2 separate regions of the Homo sapiens genome follow, and region 2 is linked to region 1. The links come from fine-mapping of genetic effects on gene expression. Tissue or cell type: cerebellum. Region 1 holds a variant in brackets; the other region holds the start of a gene. All regions are shown on one strand. Distances are from middle to middle.

Region 1 (8,000 bases):
CAGGGTGAAAAAAAAGCCCACCTCCTTTCTGGGAAACTGAAACTGAAAACCTAATTAATCCTCTGCCTGTAGGTGCCTCATGCAAGAGCTGCTGGTCAGAGCACTTCCTGGAACTTGCTATTGGTCAGGACGTTTCCTATGCTAATAAAGGGGTGGCCCGTAGAAGATTCCAGCACCCTCCCCTAACTCCAGGCCAGACTCTAAAGGGGAGATCTGGATGGCATCTACTTCGTATGACTATTGCAGAGTGCCCATGGAAGACGGGGATAAGCGCTGTAAGCTTCTGCTGGGGATAGGAATTCTGGTGCTCCTGATCATCGTGATTCTGGGGGTGCCCTTGATTATCTTCACCATCAAGGCCAACAGCGAGGCCTGCCGGGACGGCCTTCGGGCAGTGATGGAGTGTCGCAATGTCACCCATCTCCTGCAACAAGAGCTGACCGAGGCCCAGAAGGGCTTTCAGGATGTGGAGGCCCAGGCCGCCACCTGCAACCACACTGTGGTAAGCTCCTCAACTCCTTTGGATGGCCTAGTACTAGGCGGTGGGAGGGACAAGAATCTCTCCCCAGAAATCTGACCCAGGGTGGGTCTCCAGGGAGATGCAGGGGAGGTCCTGAAACTGCTCCTGGGCCCCCACATCAAGGGACCTAGGTTCCCCTACCAGGGTTTGTGGGCCCCTAACCCAGTCCAGGGCACTGGTGTAGGGGCAGGGTGTTAAAACTCTCCAGATCCCCCAAATCGGGGACCTCAGTATCCCCCTGGGACTTAGGTGAATTTATAAATTCTTTCCAGGGCACTGGTGTCGGGGGCCTTGAAACTCCTCGTGGGCACCAGTCCTGGGGGAGTAGAAATCCCTATTCAGGGTTGAAGGGGGACCTCACCAGACCCTGAAAAAGGGGGCTTTTGAAATTTTCACTTCATCCCTAAGAAACTGAAATATTCACCTGGGTCCTGATATGGGGGATCTTGAAACTCTCGCTGGGCATGTCACTTGGGCGGGGAAATCCCACTGCATTCTGGATTTGGTAGGGCCCTCTAACTTTTCTTGGGCCATTGCTCAGGCAATCTGGAAATGTCCACTAAACTTTGGTTATCGATAGCCTCCAAGTTTCCACGTGGGGTGGCCTCAAAACTCCCATTTTGAGGACCCACATGCTTATGGGTGGCCCTGGGAGAGTGTGTGGTTGTGGCTGTTCTTTAAGGTTGGAGACCATGGTGCAGAGAGGGTTGGAAGAAAACCTGAAAGGGGTTTGCATTTAAGCCCCTCTGTCCCCAGGACCTAGGGAGGAGGCCCAGGTCCCAGGGGCAGCAGCCAAACTCCCCAGGCCAAAACCCCAGATTCTAACTCTTCTTAGATGGCCCTAATGGCTTCCCTGGATGCAGAGAAGGCCCAAGGACAAAAGAAAGTGGAGGAGCTTGAGGGTGAGAAAGGGAGAAGGGAGAGGGCCGGGGAGGGGTGAGTCAGGTATGGAAGAGGGGGTGGGGGCAGGGAGACCAGGGCTGGAGGTTGGGGTAAGGGGGAGGTTCTGTCCCAGAGTGGAGCAGGGCCCCAGCATGGCCACATGCTGACCCGCCCCCTGTTTCTGTCCTCCCACCCTACCAGGAGAGATCACTACATTAAACCATAAGCTTCAGGACGCGTCTGCAGAGGTGGAGCGACTGAGGTCAGAGATAGCCTTCCCCCGCTACCCTCCACCTGCCACATTCCTCTCACCCCCACATCCCTAGCCCAAGACCCAGGATCTCCTTTGCTCCCAAAATCCCCATTGCCCCAAGGGATAAAGTTTGAGTCCCACAAAAGGATAACTTAGCCCCTAGGGTCACAGAGCCATGGGTGGCCGCTGTCCATTCCCTCCCCGGTGACTTGGATTGGGGCGGTGCGGGGGGAACTCCCGGGGGCGGTGGGCTTACAGGGAGGGCGGCAGGAGCCAGGACGAGCAGATGCCTGATTTGCCATCTGTACCGCAGAAGAGAAAACCAGGTCTTAAGCGTGAGAATCGCGGACAAGAAGTACTACCCCAGCTCCCAGGACTCCAGCTCCGCTGCGGCGCCCCAGCTGCTGATTGTGCTGCTGGGCCTCAGCGCTCTGCTGCAGTGAGATCCCAGGAAGCTGGTCAGTGAGGAGGGGGCGGCCCCGGGAGGGAGAAGAAAGCTGGGGAAGCGGGGCGGGGAAGCAGAGGCTCCGAAGTCTAGAGAGAGAGGCTGCAGGGGAAGGGACTGGGCGCAGAGGTGAGGGGCCTTGGGGAAGGAGGGAGAATCCAGTGAGAAGGATGCCCTGGATCGGGGACGGGCTGATAGCTGTATGGGGCGGGGCTATCAATGGGGGCGGGTCTATCGATGGAGGGGAGGGGCTTATGGATGGGTGGGGCGGGTCTAGCGATGGGGGCGGGGCTTGGGGCCGGGCTTGGAGCGGGGCCAGTGTCTGCTGCCTCCAGTCTGCCCTGAGTCCCTCTTCTGGTCCTTTAGGCACATCTTGGAAGGTCCGTCCTGCTCGGCTTTTCGCTTGAACATTCCCTTGATCTCATCAGTTCTGAGCGGGTCATGGGGCAACACGGTTAGCGGGGAGAGCACGGGGTAGCCGGAGAAGGGCCTCTGGAGCAGGTCTGGAGGGGCCATGGGGAAGTCCTGGGTGTGGGGACACAGTCGGGTTGACCCAGGGCTGTCTCCCTCCAGAGCCTCCCTCCGGACAATGAGTCCCCCCTCTTGTCTCCCACCCTGAGATTGGGCATGGGGTGCGGTGTGGGGGGCATGTGCTGCCTGTTGTTATGGGTTTTTTTTGCGGGGGGGGTTGCTTTTTTCTGGGGTCTTTGAGCTCCAAAAAATAAACACTTCCTTTGAGGGAGAGCACACCTGACTCTCGAGTTCCTGGAGTATCATCGTTTTAGTACCCAAGCGTTGGGGCCGCCCCTGCAGGTGAGAGTGGACACCCCGTTGACGATGACACCTCCCTTCCCTGCTCCAGGACGTTTTCAGGAGCCCACGGAGTTCGGGGAGGCACCACCCCAGTTCTTCCCAGCCCTTGTCTCTGCTGGGATCAACATAAGAACTATGCACCCTCATCAGGGCTCACCGTTTCCCAGGTGTTGTATTCTCATCTCCTCCCTAGAGCCTCTCCTGATTCCTGGGGATCCAGTGAGGAAACTGAGGCTGTAACTGAGAGTAACCTTGTCTTGCTTCCCTTCCCGCCTGCAGAAAATGCTGGGCTGGGATTTAAACTGGGATCTGTACACACACACAGGCCATGCATTGTCAGAATGTTTCCCCCTGCTTCATCCCCCAGATTCTCTCTCTCTCTCTCTTTTTTTTTTTTTTTTTTTTTTTTTTGAGACGGAGTTTCGCTCTTGTTTCCCAGGCTGGAGTGCGATGGCGCAGTCTCGGCTCACCGCAACCTCCGCCTCCCGGGTTCAAGCGATTCTCCTGCCTCAGCCTCCCAAGTAGCTGGGACTACAGGCTTGCGCCACCATGCCCGGCTAATTTTGTATTTTTAGTAAAGACGGGGTTTCTCCATGTTGGTCAGGCTAGTCTCGAACTCTCGACCCCAGGTGATCTGCCTGCCTTGGCCTCCCAAAGTGCTGGGATTACAGGCATGAGCCACCACCCCCGGCTCTTTTTTTTTTTTTTTTTTGAGACAGAGTTTTGCTCTGTCGCCCAGGCTGGAGTAGAGTGGCACGATCTTGGCTCACTGCAACTTCTGCCTTCCAGGTTCAAGTGATTCTCCTGCCTCAGCCTCCCGAGTAGCTGGGATTACAGTACTACACCACCACACCTGGCTAATTTTTGTATTTTTAGTGGAGACAGGGGTTTCATCATGTTGGCCAGGCTGGCCTCAAACTCCTGACCTCAAGGGATCTACCCACCTTGGGCTCCTAAAGTGCTGGGATTACAGGCATGAGCCATCACACCTGGCCCGATTCCCCAAACTCTTATTCATTCTGCAGTACCCAGCTCTGGGAACCCCTCCCCCAGAGAGTCTCTCTGCTTCTCCACAATTGAGGGCTGCAATCCCGACGGACCCTTCACCTACCTTATTCGATCCTCAAAGATGCCATAGTCCCTTCCTTCTCTGTTATCTTACTTCCTCCAAGTTCTCCCGGAATCCCGGCCATTGTCTCTGCAACTCCAACTCCTGTTTGTGGTAA[T/C]GGAGCCAGGAGTCCCTTGTCCCAGATTTCTGTACTATCCTAAGGTCCCACAGTCCCCAGCCCAGACGGTCAGTGGGATTTAAAAAAAAAAAAAACCCTCTGGCCAGGCACAGTGGCTCACGCCTGTAATCCCAGAACTTTGGGAGGCCGAGGCAGGTGGATCACTTGAGCTCAGTTCAAGACCAACCTGGCCAACATGGTGAACCCCATCTCTACTAAAAATACAAAAAAATGGCTGGGCGTGGTGGTTCATGCCTGTAATCCCAGCACTTTGGGAGGCCAAGGTTGTTGGATCACAAGGTCAAGAGATCCAGACCATCCTGGCGAACACGGTGAAACCCTGTCTCTACTAAAAATACAAAAAATTAGCCTGGCGTGGTGGCATGCACCTGTAGTCCCAGTTACTCAGGAGGCTGAGGCACGAGAATCGCTTGAACCCGAGAGGCGGATGTTGCAGTGAGCCGAGATCCCGCCACTGCACTCCTGCCTGGGCAATAGAGCGAGACTCTGTCTCAAAATAAAAAAAATTAGCGGGGGGTGGTGGGTCGTGCCTATAGTCCCAGCTACACAGGAGGCTGAGGCAGGAAAATCGCTTGAACCCAGGAGGTGGAGGTTGCAGTGAGCTGAGATCACGCTACTGCACTCTAGCCTGGGCGACAGAGCAAGAGTCTGTCTCAAAAATAAATAAATAAATAAAACCAGGCCTCCACTTCCATGGTTCCTACTGCTGTCCCAGGGAAGGGTCCCCAAATACCTCCCCTGCCACAGACCCCCTGGCCCTCTTGCCCCCTCACTTCCCCTTGCTCACCACCTCCACCTTTACTGATCCCAAGTTCCTTTTTGCCTCAAGGCCTTTGCCCAAGCTCTGCCTGCTGCCTGGAGCACCCGTTCCTCACTCCCAAGGTCTAGGGCAGGGTCTCAGCCTCAGCAGCATTGGTGGTTTGGGCTGGATGGTTCTCTGGGTGGGGACCATCCTGTGCATTGTAGGATTTTGTTTTTTGTTTTGGGTTTTTTTTGTTTGTTTTTTTGAGATGGAGTCTCACTCTGTCTCCCAGGCTGGAGTGCAGTGGTGCGATTTCAGCTCACTGCAAACTCCGTCTCCCGGGTTCAAGTGATTATCCTGCCTCAGCCTCCCGAGTAGCTGGGATTACAGGCACCCGCCATCATGTCCGGCTAATTTTTGTATTTTTAGTAGAAACGGTGTTTCACCATGTTGTTCAGGCTGGTCTTGAACTCCTGACCTGAAGAAATCCACCCGCCTCGGCCTCCCAAAGTGCTGGAATTACAGACATGAGACACGGCGCCCAGCTGCATTGTAGGATATTAAACGGCATCCCTGGCCCCCACCCATAAATGCAAGTAACACCCTCCCAAGTTGTGACAATTAAAAATGTTTCCAGGCTGGGCATGGTGGCTCATGCCTGTAATCCCAGCACTTTGGGAGGTCGAAGGGGGAGGATTGCTTCAGCCCAGGAGGTCAAGACCAGCCTGGGCAACATAGGGAGACCTCCATCTCTACAAAAAATTTAATAATTAGCTGGGCATGGTGGCACACGCCTGTAGTCGCAGCTACTTGGGAGGCTGAGGCAGGAGGATCGCTTGAGCCTGGGATGTCAAGGCTGCAGTGAGCCAAGATGATGCAACTCCAGCCTGGGCAACAGAGCCAGACTCTGTCTCAAAAGAAAAAAAAAGTCTCTATATGTTGCTAAGTGTCCCCGGGAGCAGGGTGGGCCTTCACTTCTGTGGCCCTGGCTTGCAAAAAAGCCAAAGCCGCTTTGCAACTACTAAGCTATTTCATCCTCACCAACAGCCCCGGTGAGGCCTAGGGTAATTACTGGACTTTTTCAGGGGTTTTTGTTTTTTTTGTGGTTGGTTTGTTTGTTTTTTGAGATGGAGTCTTGCTCTGTTGCCCAGGCTGGAGTGCAATGGTGCGATCTCAGCTCATTGCAACCTCCACCTCCTGGATTCAAGTGATTCTCCTGCCTCAGCCTCCCAAGTAGCTGGGACTACAGGCGCCCACCACCACGCTGGGCTAATTTTTTTTGTATTTTTAGTAGAGACGGGGTGTCACCGTGTTAGCCAGGATGGTCTTGATCTCCTGACCTCGTGATCCGCCCGCCTCAGCCTCCCAAAGTGCTGGGATTACAGGCGTGAGCCACCATGCCTGGCCTTGTTCAGGGTTTCAAAGCTCGTTGGGCAATTAACCCTCCACATTCTGTGGATTTCCTTTTGCCCAGGAAACAAACGCTCCCCACGTGACCTCCTCCACTCACCACTCCCGACTTGGGCCATGGAAAGGTCCCCAGACTATGCTGCTGCTCCACCCACCCCCACCCCTACTCACACTCCCTCCCCCACTCTCCCCCCACAACCCCCACCCCCATCCTGCCTGGGCTGTATTTTGCTGATAAGATTAGCCCAATATTGTGGATTCAACTCCCAATCCCCCCACACAATGGCCTGGGTGTAAATTTCCCTACTTCCTAAAATGTCCCATCTTCCCTCCCTATTTTGTCCTTTTCCTGAGAGACCTGACTCCAAGGCTGTGACCCACCCAGGGGTTGAGAAGCTGACGGCTGTGGGGTTCTGCAGTCCCCAGTGGGAATTTGGCAGTGACCAGCCACTGCTGAGTGTCCCTGCTCTGGGACTCGACCTCTCTGAGCTCTGATTTCTTTCTTTTTTTTTTTTTGAGACAGGGCCTCTCTCTGTCACCCAGGCTTAAGTGCAGTGGTGCGACCTTGGATCACTGCAGCCTCAATCCCCTGGGCTCCAGCAATCCTCACACCTCAGCCTCTTGAGTAGCTGGGACCACAGGTATGCACCACCATGCCCAGCAAATTTTTTTTTTTTTTAAATAATAAAGACAGGATCTCACTATGTTGGCCAGGTTGATCTTGAATGCTTGGCCTTAAGTAATCCTCCTGCCTTGGCCTCCCAAAGTGCCAGGATTACAAGCGTGAGTGAGCCACGTCCACACGTCCAGACACAGCTCATTTCTTTTTCTTTTTTTTTTTTTTTAGACAGAGTTTCACTCTTGTCACCCAGGTTAGAGTGCAATGGCATGATCTCGGCTCACTGCAACCTCCCCTTCTTGGGTTCAAGCAATTCTCTTGCCTCAGCCTCCCGAGTAGCTGGGATTACAGATACCCACCACCATGCCTGGCTAAATTTTTTTTTTCTTTTTGAGACAGAGTCTCGCTTTGTCGCCCAGGCTGGTGTGCAGTGGCACGATCTCAGCTCAGCCTCCCGAGTAGCTGGGACTACAGATACCCGCCACCACACACAGCTAATTTTTGTATTTTTAGTAGAGATGGGGTTTCACCATGTTTGCCAGGCTGGTCTCAAACTCTTGATGTCGTGATCCACCCTCCTTGGCCTCCCAAAGTGCTGGGATTACAGGCATGAGCCATTGCGCTGGCCAATTTTTGTATTTTTAGTTAAGATGGGGTTTCACCCGTTGGCCAGGCTGGTCACAAACTCCTGACCTCAGGTGATCCACCTGCCTCGGCCTCCCAAAGTTCTGGGATTACAGGCATGAGCCACCATGCCCGGCCCTAATTTTTTTTATATTTTGTAGAGATGGGGTCTCACCATTTTGCCCAGGCTGATCTCAAACTCCTGGGCTCAAGTGATCCTCCCACCTCAGTCTCCCAAAGTGCTTGGGTTACAGATGTGAGCCACCATGCCAAGCCTGGTTAAAAGAGTTTTTTCCAGGGCAAAGTGTGAGGGCAGAGTCTATCCAGGGCCACAGGGACACCAAAGAATGAGGATGAGTGCCTCTCATTCAGGGAAAAGTGTGGATTGTTTGTTTGTTTGTTTGTTTGAGATGGAGTCTTGCTCTTGTCACCCAGGCTGGAGTGC
Region 2 (8,000 bases), 67 kb after region 1:
GCATCTCACCCAACGCTGCAACTCACCCAAGGCCTGCAGGACGCCGCTCACCACTGCCGGGCCTCCATGCACGTGGAACTCCACGCAGTCCTCACCGGTGAAACTCTGGGGACCTAATGTGACAGACAGGTGACAGGAGGACAGCACAGCCAGTGCAAACCCTTGGAAGGGGGAAACTGAGTCATGGGACCTACAGGAGGCTCGGAACCTGGGGACCCTCACCTGGGAACCAGAGCACCAGTGCGCGGTCCAGAGGCTCCCCGGAGCGGGGATCGCTGAGCAGGCGCAGGCTGGCGTGGCGAGCAAGGGGCAGGTCTCGGGGTGCTGTGAGAATTCGGAGGGCGTGGCCGCTGGCGGGGCCGCTGGTCCGGATCACTGCGATGCCGCAGCGGCCTTGGCCAGAGCTTAGCGCGAAGATGGTGGCGCCGGAGCCGGGGGCTGGTGCGCCGCTGCTCCGGCGCGTGCACAATCTGGAACCGGAGGGGAGGCGAATCAGCGCACCTGGGAGGCTCAGCCTCAGTGTCAAGTAGACCGAGGGCTCGATGATCGCGAGATGCTCCAGGTGGGGGGGTTCTGCGGCTGGGGGATGCACAAATTGGATGTTCTGAAGGCCGAAGGGTGACCGGATTAGGGACTGTGAGGCCAGAAGGAGACCCAGATATGGGCTCTGCCGCAAGGGTCATGAACGATTGAGGCACGGAAGAACGCGAATGATTGCTCTGCCGCAGGGAATTGGGCCCCTAAAACCCAGGGAGTGGGTCTGGGGTCCAAGCAGCACCCCAAGCTGTCGCACCCCTTCCCCTGTAGCCCCACCTGCGAGGCCCACGTGCCGCTTGGGCCGCCAGGGTCCAAAGCCCCCGCCACATGGATTTACAACCTGCGACCCGCCTGCCCGACCTGCCTGTGTGGCTTCAAGTCTGGGCAGGGGGCCCCGCCCACTCCGCGGCTTGACTAGTAAAGTGCTCAACTATTCTCGACCACCATTGGGTATCTTAGGATACGTCCTGCCCACCGTCTGAAGATACTCGCTTCCATTGGCTGGTGCAAGGGAGAGCGGGAGCGGGAGGCGGTATGGAGGTAGGTGTAGCGAAATGTTGTTCCCCGGGCAACATGAGACCAAATTTTTAGGGTCCTAGCGCAGCGAGGCTGACAATAGGAATAAGGAATGGAAGAAAGGACAGAGTTTGGCACAGGGCAGTGCAAATTACAGCGAGGGGAGGTTTTGAGTCCCGCATTTTCCATCTGCTCACTCCGCAGCCTTAGGCGTGGCAAGGACCTATGTGCGTTCAGTTTTCCCGTTCAAGAAAGGAGGGACTACACCTCTTTACGTTCAGGTTCAGACCGGAAACTCAGAGCATCTCGGTGACCGGGAGGGACGAGTACTGGAGAACCCACGCCCTGATCCAGGGAAAATCTTGCCCGAACTTCTGGAAAGAGTCCTACTTGCTTTTTCCGGAACTCTCCAGATTCTCTCCCCTCCCCAGCGTTCCCTTCTGCCGTTCCCTCGGCTTCGGATGCCCTTCCTCATTTGACAAACTCGTCTTCAAGGCCTAGCTCCAAGATCCCCTCCTCCAGGAAGTCTTCCTGGAACCCCCAGCACAGCCCTCTCTCCACTGTGGACTTCCTTGGCTCTCTGTCTCTCTGGTCCAGGTCTGCACCTGCAGAGCCAAGTGTCCGGTCAGTCTCTGGCTCCCCGAAAGCCAGAAAGGGGAGCCTCGGAGATTGCTTTCAGGTTAACCCAGGACAGCACTGAAACTCGGAATAAAGCGCTGATGGTGGAATTCCAGGCACTGGCTGGGCGGGGTCTCCGGGAGCGCCTTCGCATGGCGGATTCTCTGGTTCTGGATCAGAGCGGGCGGGCGGCGCACTTGCGTGTTAAGAAAAATCTGTCTGACAGAATAGAGTTCTAATACCCCCTTACCTCGCCCTGCTCAATATTTTTATTTACTTTATTATTTTATTTTATTTTATTTTTGAGACAGGGTCTCACTCTGTCGCCCAGGCTGGAGTGCAGTGGCGCGATCACGGCTCTTGCAACCTCCAACTTTTGGGCTCAAGGGATCCGCCCGCCTCAGCCTCCTGAGTAGCTGGAACCACAGGCGCGAGCCACCATGCCAGTCTAACTTTTCGGTGTTTCTTTTTGTTTGTTGTTTTTGTTTGTTTGTTTTGTTTTCGTTTTTTTGGTGGAGACGGGGATCTCACTACGTTGCCCAAGCTTTTTTTTTTTTTTTTTTTTTTTTTTGAGACGGGGTCTCGCTCTGTCGCCCAGGCTGGAGTTCAGTGGCGCGATCTAGACTCACTGCAACCTCCGCCTCCCAGGTTCAAGCGATTCTCCTGCCTCAGACTCCCAAGTAGCTGGGACTACAGGCGTGCGCCACCATGCCTGGCTAATTTTTTGTATTTTTAATAGAGACAGGGTTTGGCCATGTTGGTCAGGCTGGTCTCGAACTCCTTGCCTCAGGTGATCTACCCGCCTTGGCCTCCCAAAATGCTGGGATTACAGGCGTGAGCCACTGCGCCCGGCCGAGGCTTTAATATTTTAAGTTGTAAAATAGGAACAAATGATGACATATTTATATTTCATCTGCCATTCTCTAGTTGTTACATCTGTAACAAGCTAGTTATTACATCTGTAACAAGCTAGTTGTTACATCTGTAACAAGCGTACAGCAAGCGCCTACTGTGTGCTCGCATTGAGAACCAGACCTGGCCCCTCGTTCCTACCCTCGCTGGGCTTTCAGTCTAACAGACTGAGCTACTCAGAATAGTCAGGGGTTGGCCAAATGCCAGGTAAAACCCAGGTCGCCCAGCTAAATGTGAATTTCAAATAAACAATGAATAATTTTTTAGTACTAGTATGTCCCATGTAGACATAGGACATAGAAACATTTATGTATGTATGTATATATATGTATTTGAGACAGGGTCTCGTTCTGTCGCCCAGGATGCAGTGCAGTGGGTGTGATCTCAGCTCACTGCAGCCTTGACCTCCTGAGCACAAGCGATTCTCCTGCCTCAGCCTCCCAAGTAGCTGGGATTACAGGTGCGCCCCGCCCAGCTAACATTTATTCTTTTATCTGAAATTTACATTTAACTAGACGGACTGTATTTTTATTTGCTAAACTTGACAACTCTATGGGATCCTCTCCGAGGTTACATCCTGAAGGGAGTCGGTGTTAACCGGACGAAGAGTGCATGAGGAGTGTTCTAGGCAGCCAAATGGTGCGTGCAAAGTTCCTAAGCAGGGCTTGCTGTAATTATGTATCACAGCCCTACTGGGGTGGTTGAAGTTATTGTCACCAGGAATCTTCCCCAACCGGCCCGCCCCTCCCACGTCCTCCCTTAGTCAACTTACGCCCATCTCACATTCCAAACAGCGTCTCCAGGGTCCGGAGTTTGCAGATGGGGAAACTGAGGCTCCGAGGCGGGGACCAGAAGAAAGCATGGGTGGGGACAAGTTGGAGAATGCACCATCAGTGCGGGCGGGGACCAGCAGCAGGGAGCGAGGTAGGCGGGCGAGAAGGAAACCCAGAAAACAACACGGGCGGAGACGCGAACCAAAGAACTAGGCGGGCGAACTCAGCTGAGAACCCTAGAGTGACGTGCATCGGGCCGGGAAGGAGAATCGAGGTTCGGCTCGGGCGGGGACGAGAAGCAGCGCTCGGGCGAGCGAGGACCGAGGCCGGCGCGGGCGGGCGCGGCCTTTGTCTCCTCCTCCCGCGCGCTCCGCGGCTGCACCGGCCCCATGAGCCCGCGGCTCCCCGTCGCCCGGGCCGTCCGTAGCCCCTGACCTGACCTGTCCTCGCCATGGCCGAGGCCGCCTCCGGCGCCGGGGGCACGTCCCTGGAGGGCGAGCGTGGCAAGAGGCCCCCGCCGGAGGGCGAGCCTGCAGCCCCGGCGTCCGGAGTTCTGGGTATGTGTGCGGCGGCTGGACCAGACAGGGTTGCAGGTGCCTGGGGAGCCCGCGTCAACTACACGGGGAGGAGGATCAGGGTCAAACGTAACCTGGCGTGGTGTCTGGACGAGGGGCCGGCTCCTCCCGGCACTGCGGCTGCGGCCCGGCGGGCGGGGCTGGGACGGTGCTTCGGGCTGGGGTCCCGGCGCGGAGACGCGGACACGCCCCTCCGAGAGCCCCAGGCTTGGGCTGCGCCCTGCCACCCCCGGGCTGCGGGATCGCGGCGGGCCAGGGATGTGCTTGAGAGAGCCTCTCCGCGAAGAATACAGAATCATACGGTCCTGGGTTCAAATCCCAGCTTGACTGTGTGACCTTGGGCGCGTGACTTAAACGCTCTGGGCCTCAGTTTCCTCACCTGTGAAATGGGGGTAAGAACCGCACCTAGTCCCTGGGGCTGCTGCAAGGACGGCGCTGTCATAATGTGGTGAAGCGCTCAGGGCTGCTAGTGAGCGCCCCATCGATTGTGGTTTTGGAGGCGGAGCTGGGCCTCAAGAATGAGTAAGATTTGTAAGGGAGGATCTGGGGGGAAGGGCATTTCTGGAGGAAGGCCTGGCTGGTACAAGGACGTGGAGGGAGGAAAATAAGCCAAGCCCAGAGCTCCCGGGGCCTTGAATGCCAGGTGGAGTGGTGAGGAGCCCTGGCGGGGGCAGGAGGAGCCAAGACTGGAGGCCGGGTCCGGATCCCAGAGTGGCCTGACCCGGGCCTGCTACGCCGCCCCCTAGATAAGCTTTTCGGAAAGCGGCTCCTGCAGGCTGGTCGCTACCTGGTGTCCCACAAGGCGTGGATGAAGACGGTGCCTACAGAGAACTGCGACGTGCTGATGACCTTCCCAGGTACCCAAGCCCGCCCGCCCGCCCGCCCAGTGCCCAGATGCGGCTCTCCTGAGCTCGGCTTCCCAGAACGGGAATACGTAGGAGGCCTTGGGCCCCCTCGTGGCAGGAGCCATCGGTCCCTGTGCCCCTTGGCAGACACGACCGATGACCACACGCTGCTATGGCTGCTGAACCACATCCGCGTGGGCATTCCCGAGCTCATCGTGCAAGTCCGCCACCACCGCCACACGCGTGCCTACGCCTTCTTTGTCACCGCCACGTATGAGAGGCGAGTCCCCTGTCCCTGGCCTCTCGCTGAGCCTGCCACCCGACTCCCCGCTCTACCAAGTGCCAACCATGCTATCCAGCCGCCCTGCGTTTGTCCCAAAGGCTGCCAGGTGCACCATCCTCAGCTCCAGGATGGTGGGCCGGGGCCTCCCTGTGAGCCCACCTCCTCCGCCTTCTTCACAGCCTACTCCGAGGGGCCGACGAGCTGGGTCTGCGCAAAGCAGTGAAGGCCGAGTTTGGCGGGGGCACCCGCGGCTTCTCCTGCGAGGAGGACTTTATCTATGAGAATGTGGAGAGCGAGCTACGCTTCTTCACCTCCCAGGTGAGGCCGGCTCTGGGCCCCCGCATGCATCCTGTGCCTATGAGTTCCCTGAGCTCACGCCCTCTTCCTCGCAGGAACGCCAGAGCATCATCCGCTTCTGGCTGCAGAATTTGCGTGCCAAGCAGGGAGAAGCACTCCACAACGTGCGCTTCCTGGAGGACCAGCCAATCAGTGAGCAGGGCGGGGTCAACACCAATCACAGGCAGAGAGTTGGGTGGAGCTCTTCAAAGACAGCTTATAGGAGCAGGAGGGCGGGGCCCAGATCCAACCAGTCAGGGGTTGGCAAAGAGTTAGGAAACCAATGAGCTAAAGGGGTGTGGCCTTAGCAAAAGGGTGGAGCTTATCTCCTGAGTTGGGTGGAGCTCTGAGAGGACAGCTTATCAGGACAGGAGGTCAGGGCTTATGTCCAACCAGTTAGGGGTTGGCAAAGGGTTGGGAACCAATGAGCTGAGGGGGCGAGGCTTTGGCCAAAGGGTGGGGCTTATTTCTGGGAGGTGGGTCCAGGAGAGGCCCTTTTCTGGGTTTGGGATAAAGTGGAGGCAGGAACCATGGACAGCACTCCACTTACAGAGTGGTGCGGCTCTGGGCGTTGGATTCCCCTCCAGGAAACTAGGCACCCAAGTTCACCTTCCGACAGCAAGTTTTTACCATTCCTCAGACGTTCGGGTCCACAAACTGAGCTTTATTTAAAGCAGGGGAACAGGCGCAGTGGCTCCCAGTACTTTGGGAGGTCCAGGCGGTAGCATCACTTGAGCCCAGGAGTTCGAGGTTGCAGTGAGCCATGGTAGCGCCACTGCATTCTGTCCAGCCTGGGTGACAGAGCGAGACCCTGTCTCAAACAAATAAATAAATAAAGTAAAAAATAAGGCCGGGCGCGGTGGCTGACGCCTGTAATCTCAGCACTTTGGGAGGCTGAGGCGGGCGTATCACGAGGTCAGGAGATCGAGACCATCCTGGCCAACATGGTGAAACCCCCATCTCTACTAAAAATACAAAAATTAGCCAAGTGTGGTTGGCGCGCGCCTGTAGTCCCAGCTACTCGGGAGGCTGAGGCAGGAGAATCGCTTGAACCCGGGAGGCAGAGGTTGCAGTGAGCTGAGATCGCACTACTGCACTCCAGCCTGGTGACACAGCTAGACCCCGTCTAAAAAAAAAAAAAAAAAAAAAAAGCCGGGCGCGGTGGCTCACACCTGTAATCTCAGCACTTTGAGAGGCCGAGGCAGGTGGATCACTTGAGGTCAGGAGTTTGAGACCAGCCTGGCCAACATGGCGAAACCCCGTCTCTACTAAAATACAAAAATTAGCTGGGCGTGGTGGTGGGCGCCTATAATCCCAGCTACTCCGGAGGCTGAGGCACGATAATCGCTTGAAGGTTGCGGTGAGCGGAGATCACGCCACTGCACTCCAGCCTGGGCGACAGAGTGAGACTGTCTCAAAAAAAAAAAAAAACATGGTTCCTCACCAGAACCCCACTCTCCCAGTTCCTTTACATTCTCCCCGCCTGCCCCTGCACCTACAATTTCTGAAGGAGAATCAGATCTTCTATCCGTCTAGAACTTCTCCCCTGGAAAGAGCTCTAGAGGTTTAAGAGCAGGCAAAAAGCTGTGACTTGGGTTTCAGACAAAGAGGGGCTAGCCAGGCTAGGCACAGGTGGAGGGGCGGGGATCACCTGTGCTCCTCCCTCCACAGTCCCGGAGCTGGCAGCACGTGGGATCATCCAGCAGGTGTTCCCTGTCCACGAGCAGCGTATTCTGAACCGCCTCATGAAGTCATGGGTGCAGGCCGTGTGTGAAAACCAGCCTCTAGGTGCTGCCTGGGCTGGGGGGTGGGAGGGAGTCCCAGCAGACAGGCAGGGGGTGACTGAGACCCACTTGTCCCCTGGCAGATGACATCTGTGATTACTTTGGTGTGAAAATTGCCATGTACTTCGCCTGGCTGGGCTTCTACACGTCGGCTATGGTATACCCAGCTGTCTTCGGGTCTGTCCTGTACACATTCACAGAGGCTGATCAGGTACTGGGCAGGGACCCTGCAAGGTCTGGGGGATCCAGAGGCGCCCTCCTTTCTGGACTGGCACAAACAATGACTCAACTCTTCTCTGCCACTCACAGACAAGCCGGGATGTTTCCTGCGTGGTCTTTGCCCTCTTCAACGTGATCTGGTCGACGCTGTTCCTAGAGGAATGGAAGCGGAGAGGGGCTGAGCTGGCATATAAGTGGGGGACGCTGGACTCACCTGGGGAAGCCGTGGAGGAGCCACGCCCCCAGTTCAGGGTCAGTTGGGGGCTGAGTCCAGGGTCATGGAGACAGGACAAAGGTAAATGGTGGGGGGCACTGCAGGAGCAAAGGCAGAGAGGTGTGAAACAGGATTGTTTCATCAAAGAGGGTATGCCAAACCGAGGCGGGCTCTGTGTGCTCCCCAGGGGGAGAGGTGGAAGTTGGATTTGAGGGACTGGGAACAGTGCCCTAGGTGGGTGACCTGAGAGGGTCACCTCCGCATGATGGAGGGAAATTGAGTTCTGAGGATAGGGAGGGGTGCAGAAGGCAGAGGTGGCCCCTCTGAGCTCATGCTGGGCCCGGTCTTTGCCCACCATCAGGGCGTGCGACGTATCAGCCCCATCACG

What was found. PIP is the estimated chance that this variant, and not a neighbour inherited with it, causes the effect.
Region 2: it holds the start of ANO8, and the variant in region 1 is fine-mapped to the expression of ANO8 in cerebellum (GTEx, PIP above 0.99).

The regions. Positions count from the first base shown.
Region 1 is chr19:17,397,793-17,405,792 of GRCh38, reverse strand. It overlaps BST2 (bone marrow stromal cell antigen 2), which reads left to right and starts at 163. Exons shown (of 5, transcript NM_004335.4): 1 at 163-502; 2 at 1,356-1,422; 3 at 1,604-1,664; 4 at 1,969-2,113; 5 at 2,467-2,854. The coding sequence starts at 218. The coding sequence ends at 2,098. BISPR (BST2 interferon stimulated positive regulator) reads right to left here and starts at 107. Exons shown (of 4, transcript NR_130766.1): 1 at 22-107. It also overlaps a transcript of MVB12A not described here. RefSeq lists enhancers at 1-131, 202-261, 246-984, a silencer at 2,508-2,676 and a cis regulatory region at 6,253-6,817. The variant T/C (reference allele first, on the strand shown) is at 4,140.
Region 2 is chr19:17,330,478-17,338,477 of GRCh38, reverse strand. ANO8 (anoctamin 8) reads left to right here and starts at 3,623. Exons shown (of 18, transcript NM_020959.3): 1 at 3,623-3,913; 2 at 4,678-4,788; 3 at 4,924-5,056; 4 at 5,239-5,377; 5 at 5,452-5,548; 6 at 7,067-7,183; 7 at 7,263-7,390; 8 at 7,489-7,650; 9 at 7,974-8,000. The coding sequence starts at 3,808. It overlaps GTPBP3 (GTP binding protein 3, mitochondrial), which reads right to left and starts at 925. Exons shown (of 9, transcript NM_032620.4): 1 at 814-925; 2 at 223-470; 3 at 27-113. The coding sequence starts at 866. RefSeq lists enhancers at 1-612, 613-1,284, 1,285-1,956 and a silencer at 3,681-4,120.